Linked DNA regions of Homo sapiens. The protein of the gene in region 2 purifies or fractionates together with the protein of the main gene of each other region. This does not show direct contact. Each region holds a gene or a part of one and is shown on either strand. Other genes may lie near its edges. The genes, in order: VDAC1, CYB5R3 and VDAC2.

Evidence for each region.
Region 1: the proteins of CYB5R3 (region 2) and VDAC1 purify together in Homo sapiens (affinity purification with mass spectrometry; 2 studies listed by BioGRID and IntAct, with this or other methods). This does not show direct contact.
Region 3: the proteins of CYB5R3 (region 2) and VDAC2 purify together in Homo sapiens (affinity purification with mass spectrometry; 2 studies listed by BioGRID and IntAct, with this or other methods). This does not show direct contact.

What each region holds. Positions count from the first base shown.
Region 1 is NC_000005.10:133,994,892-133,998,539, reverse strand, and holds part of VDAC1 (non-selective voltage-gated ion channel VDAC1), read left to right. Parts: intron 1-3,648. UniProt on the Homo sapiens protein: Non-selective voltage-gated ion channel that mediates the transport of anions and cations through the mitochondrion outer membrane and plasma membrane.
Region 2 is NC_000022.11:42,628,773-42,632,420, reverse strand, and holds part of CYB5R3 (NADH-cytochrome b5 reductase 3), read left to right. Parts: intron 1-970; coding exon 971-1,043; intron 1,044-1,432; coding exon 1,433-1,539; intron 1,540-3,648. UniProt on the Homo sapiens protein: Catalyzes the reduction of two molecules of cytochrome b5 using NADH as the electron donor.
Region 3 is NC_000010.11:75,213,675-75,217,322, forward strand, and holds part of VDAC2 (non-selective voltage-gated ion channel VDAC2), read left to right. Parts: intron 1-346; coding exon 347-396; intron 397-3,648. UniProt on the Homo sapiens protein: Non-selective voltage-gated ion channel that mediates the transport of anions and cations through the mitochondrion outer membrane and plasma membrane.

The DNA.
Region 1 (3,648 bases), on a different chromosome or scaffold from region 2:
TTGGAGAGGGAGTCTCTCGCTCTGTCACCCAGGCTGGAGTGCAGTGGCACGATCTTGGCTCACTGCAGCCTTTGCCTTTGGGTTCAAGTGATTCTCATGCCTCAGCCTCCCAAGTAGCTGGGATTACAGGCACTTACCACCACGCCCGGCTAATTTTTGTATTGAAATTCTTTATCCTTAAACAAATTATTAGTATACACAAACAGCTTAAATAATGAAGCAGAACAAAAAATGAAAATTCGATTTGAAGTGCATTCCTTCCCTAAACCTCCTTCTCCAGAAGCGTATCTAAGCCAGCCCCAATTTGCAGATTGGCTTGTATCCTTCCACATGCTTTCCCATCCATTCATGAACATAGAAAGATGTGTAAAAAGGTTTTCCTCCAATTACATGGAATTACAAATTTTCTGACTTTTTTCATTTAACTGTATCATAGCTAGCTAGCTTTCTTTCTTTTTTTTTTTTTTGTTTCGAGACGGAGTTTTACTCTTGTTGCCCAGGCTGGATTACAATGGCGCGATCTCAGCTCACCACAACCTCCACCTCCCAGGTTGAGGCAATTCTTCTGCCCCAGCCTCCCGAGTAGCTGGGATTACAGGCATGCGCCACCACGCCTGGCTAATTTATTTTGTATTTTTAATAGAGACAGGGTTTCTCCATGTTGGTCAGGGTGGTCTCGAACTCCTGACCTCAGGTGACCCGCCCACCTCGGCCTCCCAAAGTGCTGGGATTACAGGCATGAGCCACTGCGCACGGCTATCGTAGCTTCATAGCTAGCTTTCTATGCCACCACATACATCCACCTTATTCTTTTTTTTTTTTTTTTTTTTTTGTGAGACAGTCTCGCTCTGTCATCCAGGCTGGAGTGCAGTGGCATGATCTTGGCTCACTGCAACCTCTGCCTCCTGGTTTAAGCTTGTGCCTCAGCCTCTCAAGTAGCTGGCATTACAGGCGTGCACCATCACACCTGGGTGATTTTTTTTTTTTATTTTTTTTTTATTTTTAGTAGAGACGGGGTTTTGCCATGTTGGCCAGGTTGATCTGGAAGTCCTGGCCTGAAGTGATCCGCCCACCTCAGCCTCCCAAAGTGCTGGGATTACAGGCATGAGCCACCCACCTTATTCTTTTTGATTACCATATGGTACTCCTTAGTTTGCAAGTATAGTACCTTAATTTTTATTCATTCATTTTCCTTTTGATGGACTTTTAGGTTGCTTCTGGGTTTTGTGTTACAAATACTGCTGCAGTGAGCATCCTCATATACACATCTTTGAGTAGTGCCTTGGTTGCTACAGTGGGGCAGGTTCCTAGAAGTGGAATTGCCACTAGGGTTAATGCTGGGTTAATTGCTCTCCAAAAAGAGTGTACCTGTAGTACTCCCCCTTGGCGTGAACAAGAGTGACTGTTTTCCACACCCTCACTGACACTGGATATTATTTACGTTTTTGCCAGACTGCTGGTTAAGTGAGCTTCTGAAACACAGATGTGGTAGTCACTCAACAGTGGCTCTTGGTGGCCCTTAGAATAAAATCCATGCATGGTATTGAGGTCAGAAGCAACCAGTGCTTCTGATGGCACTTGGTCTCCTCAGCCTGAGATCAGCTCTCCTTAGGCCGAGGTGGGAGCAGGCAGGGAGTGGAGGTCATTGCTAGTTGAGGGTCTCCCCAACTCCCCCACTCTTGGTGATGCTGCAACAGTGAGCCTGCAGAGGGAGCTCTTACTTCCTGGTTGCATTGTAATGAGTTCCTATTGTCAGATTCCAAGTTTCTACTTTTTTCCCCATTGCTAAATAATACTTTGATGCTCATTGCTCATTCACTCATCAAACACATTTATATTGAATGCCTATTATGTGCCAGGGCTTAGCATCTTTATATACGTAACTTTTTCCATATTTTGGATAAATTTATGCATGACAGGCTCTGGGGTGCTTTGAATTCAAAGAGGTGATTTTGGGGGTAGGTGTATGGGGTAGGGTGGGGTGGGGGCACGGTGAGCACAGCAGCTGTCATTGCCATTCAGCTGATGAGCCAAGAAGGATGTGTACCCCCAAGACAGAGGTTACGTAAGTATTATGCAGACTGTGCTGGGTGATAGATACACTATCCTTCCCCTCTGTGCTTCCAGTATGGGCCGGATTTTCATTCCTCAGCTGGAATGGGGCTTGCATAATTTGTTCAAGGTCAGCCAAGGAAAGGTTGGGTAGGTAGACTGGCAGGCTGTGGAGGGGAACCAGGGACTCCTGTATCCTGGTGTGACTTGCTGGTCCTTCTCAAAGTCTTCAGTGACTGCAGGCAGGTCTGCTCAGCCTGGCCCTGCCCATCCCTCTGTTTCCTACCAACCAGTGGGAACAAAGCCCCCAGGCTCTGCCCTGAAGCCATCACTCAGGCAGAGAGGCCTGTGGTTCTGACTCCCCCAGGACGCCCTCTGACTTCTGTCTGTCCAGGGCTAGCTGCTTTGCCGATGCCAGACTGCCCTGCTTCATGCGCAGCCTCTAGAGGCTCAGCTTGTGAAGGCCCCTGGGGGGTGGATGCTGCAGAGACAGCTGTGTATCAGTAGCTAACTGTACAGGCTCCGATTTGGAGCAGATCTGGGTGGAAGGAGTGACTGGGAGGGGTGGGGGCCAGGGTTCAGCCTTCAAGTCAGCACCCTGGCAGGGTGTTAAGTGAAAGCAGGCTTTGTTGCCGACTTTTCTTTCCTCCAGTCCTCGCCTTAGAAAATTAATGCAGATTATTATTTCTATCATAAAATTGTCTCTGAAATGGGTTCGAGAGCTGTGTAAAAATGGGCATTTTGGGGGTGCTGTCTGTAGCTGTAAGAAAGCTGAACTTCTCGGAGCGGCAGAGCTGTCTCGGGCCTTCCTTAGTTCCGTCAGATCAGTGCAGCAGGGGATGGGCCGAAGTGCACAAAAAGGAGGGGAAGCTACCACTACCTGGCAGTTGGGGGCCTTTAGTGAAAGGGTGAGTCATCCTTTTGCTGTCCTCGGTGGTGTCACTTCAGGCCCAGGAGTGGACTTGACTCCATTCAGCCAGTGGTTTCTGTGAGTCTTCCTTGCCAGGTGCTATGCTGGGGAGAATGCTTACTTGGGGGCCCAGAACGGGGGAGATTATGCTTCATTGTCGGTGTTCAAGGAGATGGGGAAGAGAGCAAGACACAGATGAGAAAGCCAGCATCCAGTATGTTTACAGTGAGGCATTGGATAGGGATATGTTTTAGTGAACCAGCAAGTTCACTTGCGTGCTGCTGGTACCAACTACATGGTTGTGTTGTGGAACCCCACAGCCCCAAAAGAGCTTGGCCGTGTCGGAGCTCCTAGAGGCCCCAGGAGGGGTCCGGTCTGCTCTTCTGAGCTCTGCTCTCTGAGTGCCTTGTCCTTGGGTGGTAATCTCTTTAGTGGCCTTGTACTTCAGGCTGATGTTTGCTGTGGGTGGGGTGTTTTTTGACAGGTGGCTGTGCTTGTTGGATTTTGGGGATTAGCGATGAGAGAGGGCATTTGGGGAACATTTAATGGATGAGTGCTCTGCCTTTATCCTGAGCGGGGACCAGTCCAGATGTGAAGGCTGCTGTGTCTGGGAGGCGTCTCTTCTGTGGGGTCAGGGGAGAGTCGTGGGGAAGGCTCTGGCTCCTAAGGTCCAGGGAGGTCTTAGG
Region 2 (3,648 bases):
AGCCGAGATGGGCATCTGTGATGTCCTGCCCTGTTGGAGAGGTCTGTTGTCCCCCTCTAAGTGATGACACCATCCACATGTGGACTTTGCCACGTTTGGATGTAAGCGCCTCTGCAGCGCCGACCTTCCGCATGGCTTCTTCACACTCCCTCTCCTGGCCATGCTGGGTACTGGGGACCCCACAGGGAGTGCACCCTCAGGACGCTGGGTTTGGTTCCAGCTCCGACTGGAACTGATTATGTGATCGTCCCTGGCCTGAGCGTAAGACCCACTTAACAAGACCTCAGGGGTTTTAGTCTCAGCTCCTTCCCTGGCCCAATCTGGCTCTTAGCCAGCCCCCCTCCTCCTCTGCCACTGTCCCAGCCACTGACCATGCCCTGGGTGCCCACCCTGTGCAGGGTGGAAGCCTGGCTTTGGGCTCTTGGAGTTCCTGGGCAGGGAAGGCTCCCACTTTCTGCCCTGTGAAGCCCACCTCAGTCCTGGCTGCCCCATTTCCCAAGGGGCTCTCAGGTGCAGTGGCTTCTGCAGCCCCTCTCTTGGGATGCAGGCCTGGGCACGTGCAGCCTTGTCTAGCTCTGCCCCAGTTTGCCCATCCAGCCCTCAAGTTCTTCCTGCCCCTTCAGGCCACTGCTTGAGCTGATGGCAGAGATGGATTCCTCCCTCCCCGTCCTGTCTGGCATCCTCCCTTTGGGACCCTGGGTTCATTCCCTGTTCTGGCCACCTTGTTTGTGGCCCCTCTAGGCCAGCAGGACAGACACACCCAGCGTGCGCCTGGCCTCAGCACCTCACACGCAGCGTGCATGTGTGTGCATCTGTGCTTGGCGTCGGCGTCACGTCTTACAAGGACAAGCAGGCACTGGGGAAGGGTGGGGACACAAAGGAGGAATGGGATGGGGGCTCCGAGGCCTGGGAGCCGCCCTGGGAGGCCTCTGCCCTGGGGACCGTTCAGCAGCTTTGGGCCTCTCTCCAGATCATCAGCCATGACACCCGGCGCTTCCGCTTTGCCCTGCCGTCACCCCAGCACATCCTGGGCCTCCCTGTCGGTGAGTCACGCCCCTGCTGGGCCCATTCGGAGCCCGGCAGGCTGCTGGGGCACTAGATCAGAGAGATGGAAGCTTTACATTTCCACCAGGGAGAGCAGGGAAGCCTTCAGGAGGAGGTGACAGCTGCCCTGGGCCTTTGAGGGCGAGTCTGTTGGAATGAGAGTGGGAAGGCCCAGAGTCCCTGGCAGTGGCACCAGCAGGAGTGAAGGCATGGAGGCAGGAAGCTGGGACGTGAGGGGAATCCCCGGGAGGGGTGGGAGGGGGCCGTGGGAGCTGACGCCAGGCCAGGCTTTGAATGCCGGGTGGGGTGCAGGGGAGTGGGTTGACAAGACCCAGGGGTCACCCGCAGGATGATCTCTGGCCCAGAGTGACCCCGTTCTGTCCTGCAGGCCAGCACATCTACCTCTCGGCTCGAATTGATGGAAACCTGGTCGTCCGGCCCTATACACCCATCTCCAGCGATGATGACAAGGGCTTCGTGGACCTGGTCATCAAGGTGAAGCCTCTGGGTCATGACTGTGGAGGGGGTGTGGGTGGGTGGCCATGGCAACAGCCCATGTGGACCCCCTGGACAGGGAAGTCTCCCGCTCCTGCCCTGTGCAGCCCAGCCTCGGTCATGGCTGCCCCACTTCCTCAGGGGCTTGCAGGGGCAGTGGCTTCTAGAGCCCCTCTCGAGTCCATGTCCCCCCGCAGCCCGGACTCCAAAGACCCAGTGCTCCCTTGTGCCTGGTTTCTGAGTAAATAGCACGTCATCTTTACCAACAAAAGCCAAAGAAGGGGGTCTTGGCAGAGAACAGGGGCCAGGGTTCAGGGCAAGTGCCTTCAAACAAGGACAGGTACCTGCAGCAGAGGCTCCAGGAAGGCCGGCTGGCGGTACAGACGCCCCTGCTGCGAGGTGTGACGGCGCAGTCCCGTCCCTGCTCTCACGCTGGGAGATCCCTGGGAGTTGGGTCCCGAGTGTGCGGGGTGAGGCAGCCACTCCACCGTGGTCAGCGGCCGGGCCTCTGTGACACGCAGGCCCTGTTCTTACCCGTTTCCCTAAGAAATGTCCCTCAGGCCTGCTAGGGAAACATGTGAGGGGCTCGTGTGGTGTTGTCTGGGAGCTGGGGTGATGGGCTTTCTGGGGTCTGCTGCGGGGTTCGAGGTGGAGGTTCACAGGAGAAGATGCAGGCGTTAGGGGCAGCAGCCCGGAACCTGAAACACACATGCCGAGTGGGAAGTAAGAGGCAGCATGACGGCCCCAGCAGGGACGTTTTTATGAAAATTAGAAATACAAGCTTTCAGCCAGGCACAGTGGCTCACACCTGTAAGCCACTTTGGGAGGCCAAGGCGGGTGGATCACCTGAGGTCAGGAGTTAGAGACCAGCCTGGCCGACATGGAGAAACCCCGTCTCTACTAAAAATACAAAAAAATTAGCTGGGCATGGTGGTGCGCACCTGTAATCCCAGCTACTTGGGAGGCTGAGGCAGGAGAATCACTTGAAGCTGGGAGGCAGAGGTTGCAGTAAGCCAAGATCATGCTACTGTACTCCAGCCTGGGCAATAGAATGAGAGCCAGTCAAAAAAAAAGAAATACAAGCTTTCCTGCAGAACAGAGGGTGAGAAGCAGCCTAGACCAGTGGGTATGTGGGGTGTTGGAGACCCTCCCCAATCAAGGCCAAAGCCCTATAGCCTCCCCAGCCCAGCACCCTCAGGTACCCCTGGAGCCCCCTTACTGGGCCGTAGCTGAGGCCCTTACCTTGCCAGGTCTGGGGGCAGGCACTGGATCTGAAGGGTGGGAAGGGCCCTGGCCCGGGCTCCTTCCTTGCTGGGGCGCCCAGGCCTGGCCTCAGGAGCCCGTCTTTGGCTGGAGGACGGACACTGGACACATAGTCATGGGGAAGCCAGTGCTCCCTGCAGGGGACAGGTACCTGCGACCGAGCTTCCAGAAGGGCCACCAGGGATGGGTGGGGTTGGCTGGTGAGAGTGGCTCCCTAGCAGGTGACAGTGAAGGTGAGATCTGGGGCTGAGTAGGCACTGACCAGGTGAAGAAGGAAGAAAAGGAGCTTCAGGTGCAAAGGCCCTGAAGTCAGCAGCAGGCTCAAGGATTGAAGTGGCTGGAGGGTTGGGGCAAGGGGTGGGAGAGGTCAGTGGGGCCAGACGGGGCCTTGGAGGCCCCAGTAAGGTTTGGGGCTTTGTCCAGAAGCACAGAGGAGGTGATGAGGGCTCAAGCATCTGTTCACGTTGAAGTCTCTCTGGCCAAATGTGGAGAAGCTATTAGGAGGATTCAAATTGAGGATGAAAAACTCACAGGTGACCAGGCCTCTCCTGGCTTGGAGACCTGGCTGGCTCCCTTGGTCCTTGATAAAGGTTAGAGTCCTGGCCTGGCACCCAGGGCCCAGGACAGTGTGCTCTGCCTGCCTGTCCGTGGCCCTCCACTCCCCTCTGCCTCCACACCCCATAGCCACCCTCTGTGCTGAAGCCACAACAGGCTCCCCTCCCTGAGGCACTGTGTACACGCTGTCCCTCCCCCAGCCACCTTCCCCTTCTCCATCCATCAGACTCCTTGGGCAGGGTGAGCCGCTCCTCCTCTGTCTCCCCATTTCTTTGTAGGTGTCGGATTGAG
Region 3 (3,648 bases), on a different chromosome or scaffold from region 2:
TGGAGGTTGCAGTGAGCTGAGATCGTGCCACTGCACTCCAGCCTGGGCAACAGAGTGAGACTCCGTCTCAAAATAAATAAATAAATAAATAAATAATTTGAAAGCATTCTTTTGTGTACCAACTACCAAAAACTAGACAAAGCAGCATAGGGATAATTCTGCCCTTTATAAGCCAGTTTACAAAAGACGAATTTGTAACAATTTCATTTAAATATTGTATATTAACACATTTTTATCCACCTCTGAATATGTGGAATCTTTTTGTTTTTTATGTATAGTCAACAATTGCTATGCATCTTTCATACAAAGGAATCATTTTGTTTCTTTTGCTGTCTATTTGTTGAAGGTTTTGGGTTGGTGAAACTGGATGTGAAAACAAAGTCTTGCAGTGGCGTGGTGAGTGTTACTGTTGAATAAGTTCTATTGAACCTTTATAATTTTTCAACTTGTAAAATGGTCATAACTGAAAGATGTCTACCTGTTTTGTCTTAAAGAAGAGGCAGAAGTTAACTTTGTTTTAAGAGATTTGCGTGTAACCTGATTTATTTTGGCCTTGAATGTGATTTCTGATTTTCATGTGGTCTTTCGTCATATTATGTATGCACAAGGAACTTAGGAAAGACCAGTCAGGTGGTACTCTTTACTCGTAAGATTACACATTTGAAGGCAGGGAACCCATTATTAGACTTTTTTGTAACCCTTTGTCAACAATGCTCGTCAGAGTTATGGGCATAAAAATATCAGGAACTCATTAATTTGAGTGTACTAATCATTTATATAATGTCCATTTTCTAGCAGTTCTCCCTGGAGAAGATTTCCACATGTATTTTATGAGTTTAGGGAGTCCTGATCTGAATTTTTTTTTTTTGAGACGGAGTCTCACTGTGTCACTTAGACTGGAGTGCAATGGTGTGATTGTGGCTCACTGCAACCTCCGCCTCCTGAGTTCAGGTGATTCTCTTGCCTCAGCCTCTCTAGTAGCTGGAATTACAGGTGCCTGCCACCACGCCTGACTGATTTTTGTATTTTTAGTAGAGCTGGGGTTTCACCATGTTGGCCAGGCTGGTCTCCAACTCCTGACCTCAGGTGATCCACCCACCTTGGCCTCCCAGAGTGCTGGGATTACAGGTGTGAGTCACCATGCCCAGCCAAGAATATTTTTAAAGAGGTTAATATTTTGGTATTTGGGTGTCTTGATAGTTCAATGAACTGTTTACAAAGGGGATAAACTAATATTTAACTTTTTTCGAGACAGGGTCTCACTCGGTTGCCCAGGCTGGAGTGCAGTGAGTGCAGTGGCACAATCTCAGCTCACTGCAGCCTCGACCTCTTGGGCTCAAGCAATCTTCCCACCTCAGCCTCCCAAGCATCTGGGAGTACAGGCCGTATCCATCATGCCTGAGTATTTTTTGTAGTTTTTCTAGAGATGACGTTTTGCCATGTTGCCCAGGCTAGTCTTGAACTCCTGAGCTCAAGTGATCCACTTGCCTTGGCCTCCCAAAGTGCTGGGATTACAGATGTGAGCCACCATGCCCAGCTAGTAAAATTTAACTTTGTGAAATTTTTTTTACTTAAAAAATTTTTGTTTTGAGATTATTTTAGGGGTGGGTGTGTGTGCACATTAGAATACTATAGGTTATTTTGATATATGTATGTATGTATATATATAGAGAGAGAGAGACTTTTTTTTTTTTTGAGACGGAGTCTTGCACTGTCACCCAGGCTGGAGTGCAGTGGCATGATCTCAGCTCACTGCAAGCTCCACCTCCCAGGTTCATGCCTTTCTCCTGCCTCAGCCTCATGAGTAGCTGAAACTACAGACACGGGCCACCACGCCCAGCTAATTTTTTTGTATTTTTAGTAGAGATGGGGTTTCACCATGTTAGCCAGGATGGTCTCAATCTCCTGACCTCATGATCTGCCCACCTCGGGCTCCCAAAGTGCTGGGATTACAGGCGTGAGCCACCGCGCCCGGCCTATATAGACATTTTTGATGTAGTGCATGTAACTGATATTTATTTAATCGTATTGTAGTTTTTTTGTTTTGTTTTTTTTTTTTTCCTCTGAGACGCAGTCTTGCTCTGTCGCCCAGGCTGGAGTGCAGTGGCATGATCTCAGCTCACTGCATCCTCCACCTCCCAGGTTCAAGTGATTCTCCGGCCTCAGCCTCCCAAGTAGCTGGGATTACAGGTGCTTGCCACCATGCCCCGCTAATTTTTGTATTTTTAGTAGAAACAGGGTTTTGCCATGTTGGCCAGTCTGGTCTTAAACTCCTGACCTCAAGTGATCCCAAAGTGTTGGGATTACAGGCGTGAGCCACAGCGCTAGCCCTGTAGTTTAAAAGCCTAGGCCTGTTGGATTTCTGGGGATTTACATTGATCATATCTGTCGCTTGGTTTTTTTGGTCTGAAAGGAAGCTTAGGTGTTTAGTTATGATTGGATGACTTATTTGGCCAAGTTAACAGGTTACAGAGCAGTGATTTTTAGTGTTTTTTAATGTTCCCATTGTTAGTCTATTGAGGCCCCTAGTGTATTTGTTGAAACACAAAAGGCCTTCTAAAAAAGATTCAGTCCTTGTGTTTAAAAAGCTTACTTTCTAGTTGGAGAGACAAAATAAACTGAGAGTACTGAGGTAATTAATATCAAATATTAGATCGTTGGATAATCAAATCTTTGTTGGAAAGGAATAGATTGTTGTGTATAGGGTTAGGGAAAGTTTTATGGAAGTAGGTTTAAGAGCATGAAGGATATGTAGGAGCTGGATTAGATATAGCATGTTTTTATTCACATTTAATACATGTAACTCAACAACCATGGTATTGATCCTATAGTATGTCTCTGGCCCCAGATAAGTCCCATTAATACCTGGCTCTGTTTTCTTACCTGAACAGCAAAGCTACTGAAGCCACCCCAGAATGTAGAAGCCAAAATTTCTGGTGGTAAAGGGTATGAGCTGTAATCTGGCCCAACTCTGGTCCCACAGGGTGGTGTTGGCTTTGTTTCTTGAGGCTTCCTTGGCATGTGTATATAGGCTGGCTCTTGATCTGTGGGCTGATGAATGGCCGTAGGTGGGGCCCCAAGAGTCATTAATGTCATTCAGGATTAAAAATAGCTACTCACACATTCCCCATTCAAACTGCTAGAAAAACCTGTTCCATATATATTGTTTTAGTAATGCTTTCCTTTTCTGTGGAGCATATGAAAACGTACAAACTTTCACAGTGTCAGTTCAATTTAATCATTCGGAGGTAGGCTTTGTAATTATAGTTGCAGAAACAGACCCAAAAAAGTTAAGTGAGGCTGGTCACAGTGGCTCATTCCTGTAATCCCAGCGCTTTGGGAGGCCAAGGCAGGAGGATCCCTTGAGCCCAGGAGTTCTGAGACTCACCTGGGCAACATAGTGAGACCCCGTCTCTACAAAAAAATTTAAAAATTAGCTGTGCTTGTTGGTGGGTACCTGAAGTCCCAGCTACTTGGGAGGCTGAGATAGGAGGATCGCTTGAGCCCAGGAGTTTGAGGCTGCAGTGAGCTATGACTGTGGCACTGTACTCCAACCTGGGCGACAGAGTGAGACCCTGTCTCCAAAAAAAACCGCAAAATGTTGTGTCCTGCTCAGTGTGATGCATTTAGTAAATGACACGAAGAACT